Regions from separate parts of the Homo sapiens genome. Here region 2 is linked to region 1. The links come from fine-mapping of genetic effects on gene expression. A gene starts in region 1. The other region holds a variant in brackets. All regions are shown on one strand. Distances are between the middles of the regions.

Region 1 (8,968 bases):
GTAGGAAACACCATTCTGGATATCAGTCTTGGCATAGAATGTGTTACTAAGTCCTCAAAAGCAATTGCAACAAAAAAATTGGCAAGTGGGACCTAATTAAACTAAAGAGCTTCTGCACGCAAAAGAAACGATCAGCAGAGTGGACAGACAACCCATAGAATGGGAGAAAATATTTGCAAACTATGCATGGGACAAAGGTCTAATATCCAGAGTCTGAAGGCACTGAAACAACGCAATAAGCAAAAGAACAACCCCAGTAAAAAGTGGGCAAAGGACATGAACAGACACTTCTCAAAAGAAGACATGCGAGAAGCCAACAAACATATTAAAAAATGCTCAGCATCATTGATCATCAGAGAAATGCAAATCAAAACCACAATGAGATACCATCTCCCACCAGTCAGAATGGCTATTATTAAAAAGTCAAAAAGCAACAGATCCTGCTGAGGCAGCAGAGAAAATGGAATGTTTATACACTGTAGGTGGGAATGTAAATTATTTCAGCCACTGTGGGAAGAAGTTTGGGGATTTCTCAAAGAACTAAAAATAGAACTCCCATTCGATCCAGCAATCCCATTACTGGGTATGTATCCAAAGGAAAATAAACCATCTACAAAAAAGACACAAGCCCTTGTATGTTAATTGCATCACCGGTCACAATTGCAAAGACATGGAATTAACCTAGGTGCCCATCAGTAGTGGACTGGACAAGGAAAATGTAGTACATAGACACCACGGAATACTATGTAGCCACAAAAGAACGGAAGCATGTCCTTTGCAGCAACATAGATGCAACTGGAGGCCATGATCCTAAGTGAATTAATGCAGGAACAGACATGCAAATACTGGATGTTCTCACTCATAAGCGGGAGCTAGACACTGGGTACACATTGAGATAAAGAAGAAATGAGACACTGGGTACACACAGAGATAAAGAAGGAACAGTAGACACCAGGGCCTGCTAGAAAGGTGGGGCAGGGAACAAGGGCTGATAAAACTGCTTATTGGGTGCTATGCTCACTCTCTGCGTCTTTCATACCCCAAACCTCAGAGTCACACAATATGTCCATGTCACAAACCTGCACGTGTGCCCCCGAGTCTAAAATAAAAGCTGAAATTATTTTTTAAAAATTTGCCACAAAGTGCCTGAAAAGTATTATCATAAAAATTGTCCTCAGGCATCTTAAGAAGGAAGAAGAGGCCGGGCGCGGTGGCTCACGCCTGTAATCTCAGCACTTTGGGAGGCCGAGGTGGGCGGATCACGAGGTCAGGAGATGGAGACCATCCTGGCTAACACAGTGAAACCCCGTCTCTACTAAAAATACAAAAAATTAGCTGGGCGTGGTGGTGGGCGCCTGTAGTCCCAGCTACTCGGGAGGCTGAGGCAGGAGAATGGTGTGAACCCGGGAGGGAGAGCTTGCAGTGAGCCGAGATTGCACCACTGCACTCCAGCCTGGGCAACAGAGCAAGACTCCATCTCAAAAAAAAAAAAAAAAAAGAAGAAACTTGTTTAATTATTTTGTTGAGCACAAAGTCCAAATTCTCTGTTACTTAAATATATCAAAATAGGAAGAAAGCCATTGAGTCAGGCCCAAGGATCAAACACACAACTCCACTGTCCACTTTTCAACGTGGTGTGTCAACGCTGGCCTCATCCTGCAGCCGCGGTGACGGTGAGCCTCGGCGGTGCTCTGTTCTGATTTTGTCAACTCTGCCGATGTGGTTTCCTTTCTATATGGCTCACAGGTTTGTGAAGCTGCAGAACTTGGGCTAAAAACCTGGGATTGATGTGGGGATCCTGCATCATTTTTCCGTAGGTTGAAGGGAACAAGTTAAAAGGAAGATGCAAGTCATCAGAATGAACAAGCCAACAAGAGGACAGAGACTCCAGAAACCTGGGGAACTACAGATTCTCGGGTCCAGCCTGGGGGTAGTCTAAAAGGAAAATCACACAGAACTTACCTAAGAAAGTCCAGGTGAACGGTGAAAACTCCTGCTCCCATGATTAAGTAGAAACTAGGAGAAAACATTAATAAGTGACTGGCAGGTGACTGATGATGTGGGGTGATTCTCAGAGTATGAACAGTGACCTGAGTTCAGTCCCAGATGATACTCAGAGTGATGGCAGAGGGGATTTCTGGAAGTCACTGCATCAACAAAGAGATATTTGACTAAACTTATGCTTGGCATATTGAGATGGGAAAATAGCTGACAAAAAGTTTTCTGGCTAAACATGAATTAGCCAGAAATAATAACTAAATTATATCATTTCTATAATGAAAATAAAATCCTTTTGCAGTTTTAGCATAGTAAAATAAATAAAAAGGAAGCCAATACTCATGATAAAGCATTTTGCTAATGGCCTAAGAGGGAAAGTTAGTTTAGAAATGTGAAAACAGCTGGAGTCTTTGGTAATTAGTTTCTCTTGCTGTTCTTTATTGTAACTTTCATCAGTGACAGGCATTTAAATTCTGAATGCATAAGCCACATTTTAGAATGGGCCCTGCATCACTTTTTAATTAAAAAAAAAAACAAAAAAACCTACATTTCCAAGAGAGGGGAACTTCTTCCTGCATCCTAGAGGAACTCTCTGGAAAGTATAGAGCTGATCACTTCCTGTCTTAACTTTGAACTGAGTGAATTACTTTTCTATCCTTTCTAACATGACAGCTCTCTGGCATTCCTGCCAGTAATAACTTTCTTGGAGACTTACAAATAAAAGACAGACATAACTCTTTCCCAGTGTTTTAAATAAATGTATTGTTTTTCTCCATAAAAATGGAACCTGATTATCTCTCCAAACTCCATTTCTAGAATTTTGAGAAACTAAAATTTGGCATTCAGGACACATGAGCTCCTCCAGATTTGAAAGGGGTTTCAAAGGCTCCAAACCTGCCTCATCTGTCAGAGTTTTGGACAAATGCATTTCATTTATCTTCCTAGAGTTCCCAGAGGATTCTGGAGTTGCTACATGAAAGACGTGTTGGGATTCTTGAATACAAGGCACGGAGGGCCAAGGATTTTCTTCTGTTCTCCATATTGCCAGAGGAAGTGACATGGATTTGCCAGTATTGCAGGTTTTAACATCTGCATTCTGTTTATGATTTTGTTGCTTAGGAGATCTGGCTAAGACATTTGGCCCCTTTGACTTTTGTTCCTCATCTGTAGAATGGGAATAATTAAGTCTGCTTCTTGTCTGCCATTCTTGCAGCGGACGATGGTGGATAAATGAACATGCTTTCAAACTTTTGAGTTCTGACGAGCAGTACTCTCAACAAAGTGGAAAGTGAAAAACAGGTTCTTTAGTAGCAAATACTTCTTAAAGGAAGTATGTCAGCTTCGAGTGTAAATTTTATTCTTTGGATAATCTTAGAATTAGTGGTATGTAGTGTTTATTTTCTTTTTACTTTAATTTTCACTGCAGTTCCCTAACAGTGATTCCTATTTACTTAATCATTTGCAGCTGCTCTGCTCACCTGTTTTTCTGGACCCAGGAGCAGTCCCTCAAGAGTTTTATTATAATTTCCTTCTAAGTCCTTAAACCAGGAGGAATGTGTTTAAGTGCTTAATAGATTCCCTGGGCTTTGGAATTTTAAGGAGAATTCTGAGAGTAGCCCTCCTTCAGGAAAAGGTGCATTTCTTTCCCGTCTTTCCGTGGCCCGACGGACATCACTTTCCTGATAAAATTGTGTGGGAAAGGTTGCAATAGCATTGCCTTTGCCTCAGCAGCCAGTCCCAGAACTTGCTGATACAGCCCCCTCCCCCAAAGTTCATAGCCAAAGCAGTGGGCTAGACATCGGATGAAACCTCAGATTTGGATTTTCTGTGTTTTGTGCTTTTCCCAATGCCCCTGACAAGTCAATTGATTCATTGTTCTTGAACAAATCTTCACTCTTCTGGCTTTCTGTGTGAGACAGAATTAGGGCTTTTTCCTGTAAAGTTATAAGCCAAGGCTAAACTATGTCAGCAATGTTGTCTGCAGTGGATATTATCCAGAGTCTGGGTGTGCAAAAATTTCCTGGTTTCCAACGTAGTCTTCGTGGGTGAGTTTACAACCTCCACAAGCCCTGTGCTCCCCGCACAAACACCTGAAATGCTTTGACAGAGCTGTTTAAAAACAGCCACATGTGTCTGTGAATGATGCCCAACCACATGCTCCCCCGACTTGAGAGGATCAAGGCTACAGCCCAGGTCAGACCCCGGATCTTTAGGACCTAAATTCCCCCATCCCTGCAGTGGATAACCCCGTGTAAAGATGCCAAAGGCGGGCTGCCCCCGGCGCAGCCTTTCCTGGACATGTGTTCCCAGCTGCCTTTGCTGGAGCGCCGCTGATCCTTCAGCACCTCTGAGAGGCAATGTTCTGGGCTGGACCAGGGGGCCTTAGAGGGCAGAGGTCAAGGAGAACCCCGGAGTCTGGGGACCGGCCAAGGCTTGGCGTTAACCTTTGTGGATGAAAAGTCCCGCTGGGCTGATCCTGCGCGGACCGGGCCTGGACCCTGGGGCGTGAGGAGGGCGCGGTGCGTCCCGTGGTTGTGCTTGGAAGCCCCCCGAGGGTGCGCGCGCGTGGGTATGAGTGCGTGCGTGTGCCTGGGTGTGCGTGTGTGTAAGTGTGCACGTGTGTGTGTGAGAGTGCGCGCGGGGAAGGAGGCACAGAGACAGCCCGGACAGGCCACTGCGCAGCCCTGGTGGCCCCCGCTCCACCTCTCGCTCCGCAGACCCGCGCCAGGGAGGCCTCTGGGCCGCAGCGGGCACCGGAGCGGAGCGGGCGCGGCAGCGGGCGCTGGGAGGTGGGGCTGGGGGAGGAGAGGGGGAGGGAGAGAGGCGGGCGGGAGGGGAGGATCCGGGAAGCTCCGGGGTATTTGACAGGAGCGAGGGCGGACGCAAAGAACGCGGAGGACCTCTGGGTGCCTGCAGGGGAGCTGCTCCAGCCGGGCCGCCGGGAGCGGTGGGGAGAGCATCGCGGAGCCGCCCCTCCACGCGCCCGCCCAGCCGCGCTCGCCCACTGGGCTCTCCCGGCTGCAGTGCCAGGGCGCAGGACGCGGCCGATCTCCCGCTCCCGCCACCTCCGCCACCATGCTGCTCCCCCAGCTCTGCTGGCTGCCGCTGCTCGCTGGGCTGCTCCCGCCGGTGCCCGCTCAGAAGTTCTCGGCGCTCACGGTAAGCCCGGGCCCGCGGGACCTGGAGCTCAAGTGGTGCCGCCTCTTGCAGCCGGCCGGGTTCGGGTCCCCGCGCCCCGCTCCAGGCCCAGGCGCCTGGGCACGGGGAGCAGGTGGCCCCGGGGGCCGTGGAGCCTTCGCCTGCCGGCGAGGCTGGAGCAGGTAGGACGCAGCGTGCGCGCCTGGGACCCGGCTGGGATGGGCTTCTGGGGACCCTGCCCGCCGGGGTCCTGCTGCGGCTGCGACGGGCTCCTCGGGTTCCACCCGGCTGGGACCCCACCTGCCTCGGGGGCTCTGACCCGGCTGTGAGAGGATCCTGGGGTCCTGCAGACCCCGGACAAGTGGGAGCTGCGGGTGCGCTCGGGTGTCCCGCACTCACTGCTGGGCCTGAGCCTGTGGGGAACCAGGTCTGGGAGCGCCGGCGCCGCCCCGCGGACTGTCCCAAGGCCAAGACAGACCCGCCGGGACTGGGCGCCCACCTCGCCCACGGGGACCCGGCCTGGAGCGTGTTCTCCCGACCGCTTTGGGCTCGTGCGCCGCGCGGATCCCGGGCCTCTCGCCGGCTGAAGGGGCTGCCAGTCGTGGGCCCCACTCGTGGGTCTGACTCTCCCAGAGACCCTCGTAAGTGAGCCGAGGAAGAAGCAGATGAGGTTACAGATGATTCTTCACGGGCCTGAGTGTTATTAGAGAAGCGCTTTCTTCCCTTCTCAGGACAGAACTGGAGGCAGGCGGCGGCTCCCCGCTCTGCGGGGCCTCTGGGTTCTTCCTCGTGGCAGGGATGCTGCGCTCCTGAGCGCGAGGGTCACCGCGGTTGACCGCTGTGTGTTTTTCTTTCTGAGCTGTAACTTCTATGCGACAGCCTTGGCCCGGCCAACGCACGCGGTGTCAAACGAGGAGCTATGTAGAGGGGGCTGAGCCAAGCCCCCGCCGGCCAAGCCAACCCGCGGCGGCCGCTGGGCCAAGGCCGGGTGTCTGCAGCCCCCAGCTCCAGCCGTCCTCCTGGGCTTGCAGGGTTTGCAAACCCATCATTAATGCAATCGCCAGAAACGAAAACATTCCACTTAAATGTGTTTTTGAACAAGTGTTTGAGAAAACACGAAGGTAGTGAGAACGCCTCTGGTGGACAGCCGTCTTTTTTAAGTGGCCGGGGACTTGTCCTAAAGGTGTTTATTGTATTGAAAATAAAGATGGTTGAAATAAGCTGTGGTCGGTTCTGCCTTTCAGCAAATTTAAAACAGTCATGTGGGCATCTTTTCTTTTTCTTTTTCTTTTTCTTCGTCTTCTTTCTTTTGCGTTTTAGCAGTGTGAAGGATGGTTTGTGAGTTCATTGCTCATACCTCAAATTCTTCTGCAGCAGCCCGGGGTCCCTGCCTTGTGTCTCACAAATGACTTGTAGATTAGAAACTGCTAACTGGGGCTCCAAGGAGGTTTTCACACACTCAGGCTTTCCCTGAAGATCCTTTATCTCCCCAGAGGGGGCCCTCAGAGGATACTCACTGGAGGCATTCATGTATATGCACATCTGTACATGCATCTAGACATAAATATACTCACGTATACACTCACAAAAAGACCCCCCACATACTCTTAAAGCACACTAGAGGAGACAGAGAAACTAAGGCCAATTCTCCAAAGGAGATCATAGCATTTTCTTCCAGGACTGTAGCAGCAGGTACCTACAGTTGCCACGGATTTTCAGATTTTCTGAAAGCGCAAAAAGTAGAGACTGCCATCTGCCTGCTGCCCTGTGTGTGTGGGGGGTGGGGTTGGGCCTGTTGGTCCCCCCTGGAAGAGCAGAATCAAGGTAGTTAGTAATTAGAACAGTTTAAGACTCGGCAGGTTTTCTTGTCTTCTCTCCCCTGTCTCATCTAACTATTTACTTGAACCCTCTCACCTTTTGCCCCCTTGAGGTTGCCCCAAGGATGTCTTGGGTTGCGGTGAGACCCGCTGCATGTGGGGTCTCTGTGCAGGAGCTGATACCCCACGTGGGCTTTGCCCTGTTGGCTGCATTCCCCAAGAACAGTTTGCCTGAAATTTACATTTGCAAATAAAATCAGTATCCCGAAGAAAAGATTAAAGCCATAACACATTTTGGCACACTTCTTCTCACCCCACCCCCAGTCTAGAAAATCAAGAAGTAGTTGAGTTACAAAGTAACTGAGGCAGGCCTGAAATCTGACTGGTCGCTGGGAGATGTGAGATGTGCAGGATTTTTCAGTGTGCTCATCTCTTTTCAAATTGCCTTCTGGTTTTTGGAAATCTCTTTTGTCTCCGGAGGCCCTCATTCAAAGAAGGGCCTTCTCTCCCTACGATTTGCATCCTACCTACTTTAATAAATCAAGAGGCAGTATCAGTCCATGCAGTGGGTGGGACCCACAGCTTAGGGTCTTGCTGGATGTGTGACTTCAGGCAAGTTACTTAATTTCATAATCTTCAGTCCCCTTATCTGTAAAATGAGAATACATAATCTCTTTCAAGCATGTGGTGAGGATTAAAGGTAGGGCTTTTAATGCGCCTACTATATGTGAGTTCTCCAGCTAACATTGTTTTGATGGTGCCCATGCCGTGGGTCCGTATAAGAGAGTGCTATCAATTGATACCGTAATTATCAATGCATATAGCGTTGTGGCATTAAGGTGTGTGTGGATTCAACTTTGCAGTATTTTCACCTGCCGCAGATTCTCAGAGCACACCACTTGGCTCTGGGTGTATCTGTGGACTTTGTGGGAGTAGCCATGTGGGACTCTATAGACCAAGGAGGAAAGCTTGCCTCTCTGCCTCCTTCTACTCCATTCATTTCTTCTCATCTAGAAGCAGGGAAATATGTCAGCCTCTCTGGGGCTTTCAGTTTGCCATACCTGGCTTCTCAGGACCACGCATTTGTCTTACTCACCTATGGTGAGTGTGCTTTCTTGGTGGGTCCAGCATTGCTGGTGTGCTCACCTCTGCTACTTTATGTTTAAGATTCAGAGAATCCACTTTGTCTGGTAATGATCTCTCTTCTTTCCACCAAAGTCATTCTTTAGAAATGGCACCATGAGGCCCTCTGTGTCTCTCATTGTGACTTTCTGATGGCTTTGCACAACTTCCTGGTTATTGCTCAGACCCTCTCACCTCCAGTCAACAATGGCATTCTTAAGTGTGTCCAATGCGCTCTTAATTTGGATGCAGGTCAATTTCTTCCTTGAAGAAGGAGGTACATTGAATGCCACACCGTGCCCATTTTCCTTTTTATTTCTGTGAATGACTGAGATGAGGGAATGATCTCTAGTATAAATGGTTTTTATTACACATAATTCTGTTTTCAAAGAGCAAACAGGCGTGATCACAATTACTCAACTTTATCATGGTTGTCATTATATGAATTTTGATGGACTGATCCATAAGCCCATACCTAGGTGATTTCTTTAAAGGCAGAGAGAAGAACAATATTGCCTGGGACCCCTTTCCCAGAAGTTTTTGGTTAGAGCCAAAGTATTCATTCCCATGTTGACTAAATCATATTTTGCTCACACTTAGAATGTTGAAGTCACATTACCATCCTTCTCAGACTTCTCTTACTGCCAATACCTAACGCTCCCCTAAGGTCATACGCACGACTTCGTTAAAGGTACCGTTGTCTCCACATTCAAGAGATGAGGAAACTGAAGTTTTGAGAGACTCTGAAGGGCACCTGGTCACTAAGCAGATCCGAATATTTCTCAAGTCATCCTGCCATTATTTTTCTTTCTTCGTGGGAGTTCCCTGCACTGTTTTTTGCACTGTCTTCAGGAACTTTACAATTCCACACTGCCGTTTCACCTCTCAGACTG
Region 2 (8,968 bases), 170 kb after region 1:
CCCTACACCCAGGACAAGGATAAAACCCAGGCAAAGCAGGCCTTGGTCAAGGGCTGCTGAATGGCATGCATATGGCAGTGTTTATGAGCTGTTTACCGGATTTGAATCTGACACCCTTAGGGACAGGCACCCTGGTTCCCACTGCCAATTCAGTAGTACCACAGAGCCACTTGCTCCCATGAGCTCTGCAACCGCAGCAGCCAGGGCACCTGCCCTCTTGGATGTCAGCCCTGTCTGTTCAGGACTTAACCTGCAGTTTGTCATTGATGCTAAGTGGGACCAGAGAGTCGTTTTTTTTTTTTTAACACTGAGGCAGACTTTCGTAGCTTCACGAGGTGGATTGGAAATGAGTTGGCCTTTGGTGCTACAGGAATCTAAATCCTGAAGTCCTTTGCATCCTTTCCTTGGGCGGGGTGGGGGTAGTGGTCACACCCTCTGTCCTCGTGCACACACTCCTGCTCTGACGAAACAACCCAAGTGCTTCCTCCATCCAACCCTGCAACGGGAGGAGGGGGAGGTGTGGGCGCTGCTCCATCCAACCCTGCAACGGGAGGAGGGGGAGGTGTGGGTGCTTGGCAGCTGCTAGATGAGATTCATTTCAGAGACGGGATGGAGAGACGGCCCTGCTGTGTGATTGAAGTCACAGTGTGCTTCTTCCTACTGACTGCAAGCAATAGCTTTCTATGCCAAATATCCACAAAGGTGACAGAAAGGAGTGAGGAGGTCATGGGTGTCATAGCATCAGAGCCACAGGTCACGGTGTATGCTAGGGTAGGACACTCCAGAAATGGAAGACAAACCACAGCTGGTCTCAAGCCCGTTGTTTTCTCTCTCCTTCCCCCGCCTTCCCCCCGCCCATAGGTACGAGCAGCCGAAATGTGACAACACGGCCAGGGCCCACCCAGCCAAAGCCCGGGACCTGTACAAGGGCCGCCAGCTACAAGGTGAGCAGCACCCGCGAGTGTGGCCCGAATCCACAGGCCCCACCATGCAGTTTCTTGCAAATTTGGAATGAAAAAGACTTTATCTGACTCTGTTTCCCAGGGGGCCTGTCTGACTCTGAGGCCTCCTACCTCCTTGCAGAGGGCCCTGAGTCCAGGCAGGGAGACAGGGGGCCAGGAGCCCACACGGGGAGCACCTGGGGGGCTTCCTCCCTGCTGCTGTGTATGGAAGGTCAGACATGGAAGAGAAAGAAAGGGCCCCTCACAAATCAGATCAGCACACAGCACCCTAACCTCTCTAGATGCTCCTGAACCCCACAGCCCAAAGAACCCTTTATTCATTCTACCTACATTTCACTGTCACTTTCTGACATTCCTTTTTCACTGAATCAACAGTTCATGAAGCTAAAGTTTAGGTTTTAAGAAAACATGAGTTGAATGTATGTATTGAGTTTAATTACAAAGAAATATTGTAATTAAACAGAGGTGAATTAAAATTTATAATAATTGAAAAATGCAGTCACAAAAAGACGTCATGGGGTGAATTTGATATATCATTAAGAAGCTTCAAAGCTACTTGCCATTTGTTTCATTTTGATCTTTTTTTCTCTAAATATCTCCAGATTGTGTATGTTTAACCAACATCTCAGAGACATGAAAATCACACTACAGCGTACTTTGTTTAGAGTACGTGCTTGATCTTGTCTCATACAGAAACTGGATGAATTCCGGATGAGTAAACTTTTGTGCTTCCTGTACTATTTGTACTGTCATTGGTAGAAAGGTTTTAAATTGTAAAAAGTAAAGATGTTCGGCTTATAAATGAGGACAGGGTAGAGCAGAATGTCCACAGTCTATACATGTTTCATTGCTACGTGTTCATAGCGATTCCACAACATGAGTAACGAGAATGGTTGACACAGGGAAGCAGAGGGCGGAATGTGGTTCCGGGGACACACAGCACAGTTATTCTGCCAGCTCTTGGTAAACACCGTGCAGCTCACTGGGCTGGCTTGTTAGGAACTGTCTTTGTCTTAGTTCTTCATGGTTTCCCAGCCGTGTACCTCCTCAGTGTCTTCCTTGTGAGGCAGGTTTGAGGAATCTGTTGGTTCTAGTAATTTTTTTTTAATGAGAGTATGGTCCTTGTGTGAGCAATCAACTTGCTTTCTGTTGAATGAATCAGCTTCTTTCTGGATCTCGCAGGTGAGGGTGGGGGAAGAGATCACGATGGTGCAAACACACCCGTCCCTGTGCATGCCTAGTGAAGGGTGTTTTGCCTTTGACCCCGTGTCTGCAGGCTGTGCTCAGCTGCTGGCTGAATTCCATCCCCCTGATGGCCCTGTCAGGAGGGAGTTCTCCTCCTCCATTATCTGGTGTCATCTCTTGTCTCTGAAGTCCGATTTTAATATTGGTGGGCAAGATGTTTCCTTAAAAGACATAATGAGCTTCTCACATGCTTGCTGCATGGAAAGCCCTCAATAAATGTTTCCTGGTTTTGGTTGGTCTTGACCTTGTCACGTGCACTTCAATCTGTCTTTTGCCCCTAGTGTACTTCTTGAAGAGTCCAAGATTCTTAACTTATTTTTTTTTTCGATAGCACAAAGTTGCATCACTTCTAAGCCAAGCTGCACTGTGGTCTTCACACAGGTGATACGAGTGCAATTTATGGAAGTCAGTTTCGCTTCTCATTGGTAAAAGGGACCGTGACAGAGGCTGGCTTCTGCTGCCTCTCAGGAGTGCACGTGGCAGGAAGACCTTTTCCTGGTGGAATCTAATCTGTTACACTCTAGACCCAGACTATTGATTTAAAGATGACACAGTCATTTGTCCAGTGAGAACAACTGGTCCTTGATATTGAGAAACATGATGTCATTGTCTTCTCTGAGTGTCAGAGGTGCCATTTGGAGATACAGCATCCCACACTGTGAGGATGGGCACGTCAGAAACCATGCTCCTCTCTGCTAAAACAGGAGGAGAAGGATGGTTAGATGCTCACAATGAAGACGGCGTTTCCTTGCCCACACCTCAGACGAAAACCAGATTGCTGAGGCATCAAAGCCACGTGACGCAAACTGTGCAAAGGTCAGCTTGTGCTGTTGCCATAGATGTTTGGGAGTGCACTGTTCATGACCACTTAATTATTTTGATTATTTGGAGATAATTATCCTTATTAGGAAAAAACAAGTAGGTCTTAAAATAGCTGCAGGATAGAGGCTGTTCCTGGTAGAGAGGAGAAACCTATTTCCAAAATAACACAGCAGCCTTTGAGTAGGAAGATCCTTCAGGTCCCATGCAGGCTGATGTATTTTATTCTTAAAAGGTACCGTTTCCTTTTGAAGTTGCTTTTCTAAGGTTTTGCCAATGTAGGTCCTCTATTTTCCATGTAAAGCTGATAATATTTTCACACAAAATTCACTTGTTTGGGGTGAGCAGTTGATTTGTCACCAAATACTTATTCACATCTTATGTAGGACAGTTAGCAGGTGTTTGGCAGCAAACGATCATTGAGTCTTTGGAGGCCATCATTTTATTATATGGCACAAGAGATCTAGGTCTGGCTTAAGGGGCTACATAGTGACGACTGGGTCACCGTTTTGGCTTTTGAAGGTTCTTCTTTCATTGTGTAGGTTTCCTCCTGGGACTATCACATCCTGTGTAGCAGAAATTCTAAAAAGAGGCACAAAACCACACCTTCTTAAACCACACCTTCCTAAACCAGATCTTCTTAAACCAGCCCTTCCTAAACCACACCTTCTTCTTGGACAGGTTCACCTCACTTTATTTTGCCCTGGCATCTCTGATCACACTCTGGTTGGTGTTTTAAATAACAGGGTTACTCTGTCTCTCCAGCCTCCCCAGCCCCCTGACATCCTCCCAGGTCCTCATGTGAGGCTGGAGAACCAGGCACTTGCATTGAGCTGTGGCTCCTGTGTCGGGGCCGTGGTGTGTCTGTTGGGCCCTATGTGGCTCCCGTGTCGGGCCTGGCTGTGGCTCCCATGTCTGGCCCTGCTCTGGTTCCCATGTCCGGGACCCACCGTGGCTCCCGTGTCGGGCCTGGCTGTGGCTCCCATGTCTGGCCCTGCTCTGGTTCCCATGTCCGGGACCCACCGTGGCTCCCGTGTCGGGCCTGGCCGTGGCTCCCATGTCTGGCCCTGCTCTGGTTCTCATGTCCGGGACCCACCGTGGCTCCCGTGTCGGGCCTGGCCGTGGCTCCCATGTCTGGCCCTGCACTGGTTCTCATGTCCGGGACCCACCGTGGCTCCCGTGTCGGGCCTGGCCGTGGCTCCCATGTCTGGCCCTGCTCTGGTTCCCATGTCCGGGACCCACTGTGGCTCCCGTGTCGGGCCTGGCCGTGGCTCCCATGTCTGGCCCTGCTCTGGTTCCCATGTCCGGGACCCACCGTGGCTCCCGTGTCGGGCCTGGCTGTGGCTCCCATGTCTGGCCCTGCTCTGGTTCCCATGTCCGGGACCCACCGTGGCTCCCGTGTCGGGCCTGGCTGTGGCTCCCATGTCAGGCCCTGATGTGGCTCCCGTGTCTGAGCCTTGCTGGAATTCTTCCCTCTGCTTGAGCTGCATCTCTCTTAGCTCCTGTGCCTCCCACACATCCTTCAGGACGGCTTCCTCAGGATGCCCAGGCGGCCGGCCACTCACATGCACCTGTCCAGCTTGTTCCCACCTGGTGGGGCACAGCGTGTGGTGTGGGTGTGGACTCTGCCCCGTGCCTCACAGGGTCCCTGGGGAGGTGGAGACTGCACCTCCATGTTCCCGGCATCCGCGAGGTGGAACGAAGGATGTAGGCAGTTTTCTTTTCCTACTAGAAGACTTTTTGGCTAAGTGATACTGGTAAGCTTTGACTTACTAGCCATGTGGTTTTGCTTATCTAGGGCCCCGCAGCACTGGTCTTGAATGGGCTTTCCAGTGTGGGGAGAGGGTGACCCCAGCCTTTACCTGAAGAGCAGTGCTGGGTTCGTGATCTCCATCGGGGAGAGGGTGACTGCAGCCTTTACTCAAACAGCAGCGCTGGGTTCGTGATCTCCATCAGGGGAGAGGGTGACCCCAGCCTTTACTCAAACAGCAGCGCTGGGTTCGTGATCTCCATCAGGGGAGAGGGTGACCCCAACCTTTACTCAAACAGCAGCACTGGGTTCGTGATCTCCATCAGGGGAGAGGGTGACCCCAGCCTTTACCTGAAGAGCAGTGCTGGGTTCGTGATCTCCATCGGGGAGAGGGTGACCGCAGCCTTTACTCAAACAGCAGTGCTGGGTTCATGATCTCCATCGGGGAGAGGGTGACCCCAGCCTTTACTCAAACAGCAGC[G/A]CTGGGTTCGTGATCTCCATCAGGGGAGAGGGTGACCCCAGCCTTTACTCAAACAGCAGCACTGGGTTCGTGATCTCCATCAGTCCTCAGGGCCCCTTCTGCTGAGTGAGAGGGGAAAAAGCCAGAACAGTCCCTTGCTTGCCTCAGCTGCGGCACCGGCTCCATTTGTGATTCAGGCTCGTAGGCCCTCGGCGCGGCAATGCAAGAGGCCATCGGCACAACCTTGTCAGAGAGGAGATGCAGGCGAAAGACAGAGGTGCAGGGAGATGCACCTGTCCAGAGCAGAGCAGGCCCAGTCGCCGGCAGGTTCAGGGCAGGAGCATCGGCCAAGGAGAGTTGGCTCGAAAACTTACAATGGAGACTTTGATCTAAAGTGAAGTCAAAATAAGTGATTTCATGGCCTAGAGTGCAGGGTTTCCTCTCACCTTTCCTGATCATGCAATTGTGTCTTTCACTCTCGGATACGGTTTTCCGGCTGACTCTCATTCTCAGGACCAATCGTATTCGAATGAGCAGACTGGCTTTCCTCTGGGCGTTGCTTCATTTCAGTCTACACTGGCAGGGAACGCTCACATTTTCGTCATTGTGACGATCTGCGCTGCGTGCAGTCTGATCTCACTCTCAGGCACTGTGGTCCAGGCCACCCCAAAGGCAGCACAGGAGCTGGGCCCTGGGGGTCAGGAAGGTGCAGGGGAAGTCTGACGTATCCTGTGAGCCATTCCTTCCTCCACCAGCTCAGGTGAAAACAGCACTGTCTTTCTGTGGGTGTCCTGATGTTGGTGGTTCAGCAGTGGCACCAGTGTGAGGACAGAGGGGGCGGCATGAGGAGCCCCTTGGGGAGCCTGGGCATGGCCCCTCTGTTACTGCCCTGTACCCCAAGCCAGGGTCCTCTCCTGGATCCCCAGAGCTCTTCCGCCTGGCACACAGTCTAAGAAATGGTCTTTATTTTGGTCAAACAGCCTCTCACCCAAGTGTTTCTGGAAGCTCTATGGACCCAGCAGACTTCATGAATGGTCAAGGCCTCTCCCTAAAGGGCATGGCACAGTGCCTCTTCACATCTACAGCCAGCACAGGGGGCCTCTTCACACCTACAGCCAGCACATGGAGCCTCTTCACACCTACAGCCAGCACAGGGCCTCTTCACACCTACAGCCAGCACAGGGCCTCTTCACACCTACAGCCAGCACAGGGGGCCTCTTCACACCTACAGCCAGCACAGGGCCTCTTCACACCTACAGCCAGCACAGGGCCTCTTCTCCTAGAGCCAGCACAGGACCTCTTCACACCTACAGCCAGCACAGGGGGCCTCTTCACACCTACAGCCAGCACAGGACCTCTTCACACCTACAGCCAGCACAGGGGGCCTCTTCACACCTACAGCCAGCACAGGGCCTCTTCACACCTACAGCCAGCACAGGGGGCCTCTTCACACCTACAGCCAGCACAGGGCCTCTTCACACCTACAGCCAGCACAGGGGGCCTCTTCACACCTACAGCCAGCAGGGGGCCTCTTCACACCTACAGCCAGCACAGGGCCTCTTCATACCTACAGCCAGCACATGGAGCCTCTTCACACCTACAGCCAGCACAGGGGGCCTCTTCACACCTACAGCCAGCACAGGGGGCCTCTTCACACCTACAGCCAGCACAGAGCCTCTTCACACCTACAGCCAGCACATGGAGCCTCTTCACACCTACAGCCAGCACAGGGCCTCTTTATACCTACAGCCAGCACAGGGCCTCTTCACACCTACAGCCAGCACAGGGCCTCTTCATACCTACAGCCAGCACAGGACCTCTTCATACCTACAGCCAGCACAGGGCCTCTTCATACCTACAGCCAGCACAGGGCCTCTTTATACCTACAGCCAGCACAGGGCCTCTTCACACCTACAGCCAGCACATGGAGCCTCTTCACACCTACAGCCAGCACAGGGCCTCTTCACACCTACAGCCAGCACAGGGCCTCTTCACACCTACAGCCAGCACAGGGCCTCTTCATACCTACAGCCAGCACAGGGGGCCTCTTCACACCTACAGCCAGCACAGGGGGCCTCTTCACACCTACAGCCAGCACAGGGCCTCTTCACACCTACAGCCAGCACAGGGCCTCTTCACACCTACAGCCAGCACAGGGCCTCTTCACACCTACAGCCAGCACATGGAGCCTCTTCACACCTACAGCCAGCACAGGGCCTCTTCACACCTACAGCCAGCACAGGGCCTCTTCACACCTACAGCCAGCACAGGGCCTCTTCATACCTACAGCCAGCACAGGGCCTCTTCACACCTACAGCCAGCACAGGGCCTCTTCACACCTACAGCCAGCACAGGGGACCTCTTCACACCTACAGCCAGCACAGGGGGCCTCTTCACACCTACAGCCAGCACAGTACCTCTTCACACCTACAGCCAGCACAGGGCCTCTTCACACCTACAGCCAGCACAGGGCCTCTTCATACCTACAGCCAGCACAGGGCCTCTTCACATCTACAGCCAGCACAGGGCCTCTTCATACTTACAGCCGGCACAGGGCCTCTTCACACCTACAGCCAGCACAGGGGGCCTCTTTACATCTACAGCCAGCACAGGGGGCCTCTTCACACCTACAGCCAGCACAGGGCCTCTTCACACCTACAGCCAGCACAGGGCCTCTTTATACCTACAGCCAGCACGGGGCCTCTTCACACCTACAGCCAGCACGGGGCCTTTTCACACCTACAGCCAGCATGGGGCCTCTTCACACCTACAGCCAGCACGGGGCCTCTTCACACCTACAGCCAGCACAGGGCCTCTTCACACCTACAGCCAGCACAGGGGGCCTCTTCACACCTACAGCCAGCACAGGGCCTCTTCACACCTACAGCCAGCACAGGGGGCCTCTTCACACCTACAGCCAGCACAGGGCCTCTTCACACCTACAGCCAGCACACGGCCTCTTCACACCTACAGCCAGCACAGGGTCTCTTCATCTTCATACTTACAGCCGGCACAGGGCCTCTTTACATCTACAGCCAGCACAGGGCCTCTTCATACCTACAGCCAGCACAGGGGGCCTCTTCACACCTACAGCCAGCACAGGGCCTCTTCATACCTACAGCCAGCACAGGGGGCCTCTTCACACCTACAGCCAGCACAGGGCCTCTTCACACCTACAGCCAGCACAGGGGGCCTCTTCATACCTACAGCCAGCACAGGGTCTCTTCACATCTACAGCCAGGAGCATCTTTTTTCTTGGGGCCCCAAGCAATTGCTGGCATAATTATCGTCTTTGACTCATGTAGAAACCTTAGAGGCAACACCTGGATTTTTCAGACACGATTTTAGCACTATTCTAATTTTTTGAAGATTAGTTATGGTTTTCTGAGAGAGCATAAAATGAACCTTACCTTGCCCTAAGTGGAGCTTAGGACATTTTCCAAAAGGTAGTTAGATCAGGAGCAACACATTCCTGCCAGGTATCATGTGACATGTAAGGACCTCGGTGTTTACCTTTTCTACAAAGCAGACAGGAGCCGGCCAGGACCTCGCTTGGTGGCCTTTGAGAGCCTCACAAAGGTGACACGAGGTGTCAATATTCTGCCCACTAAAAATGTCTACTTCTGTGATCCCTGCTGTCATATCAAAGACTGAATTTACAGACACGAGTCTTCTAAATTTTAGCTGAGCTGGGAACAAAGCTTCAGGCTTTAGAAACATACTACTGTAATT

What was found. PIP is the estimated chance that this variant, and not a neighbour inherited with it, causes the effect.
Region 2: its variant is fine-mapped to the expression of SMOC2 in esophagus muscle (GTEx, PIP 0.93).

What each region holds. Positions count from the first base shown.
Region 1 is chr6:168,436,298-168,445,265 of GRCh38, forward strand. SMOC2 (SPARC related modular calcium binding 2) reads left to right here and starts at 4,887. Exons shown (of 13, transcript NM_001166412.2): 1 at 4,887-5,157. The coding sequence starts at 5,074.
Region 2 is chr6:168,607,296-168,616,263 of GRCh38, forward strand. SMOC2 (SPARC related modular calcium binding 2) reads left to right here. Exons shown (of 13, transcript NM_001166412.2): 9 at 862-944. Among named protein-coding and RNA genes, the nearest start is that of SMOC2, 170 kb to the left of the region's middle. RefSeq lists an enhancer at 5,660-5,829 and a cis regulatory region at 5,745. The variant G/A (reference allele first, on the strand shown) is at 5,258.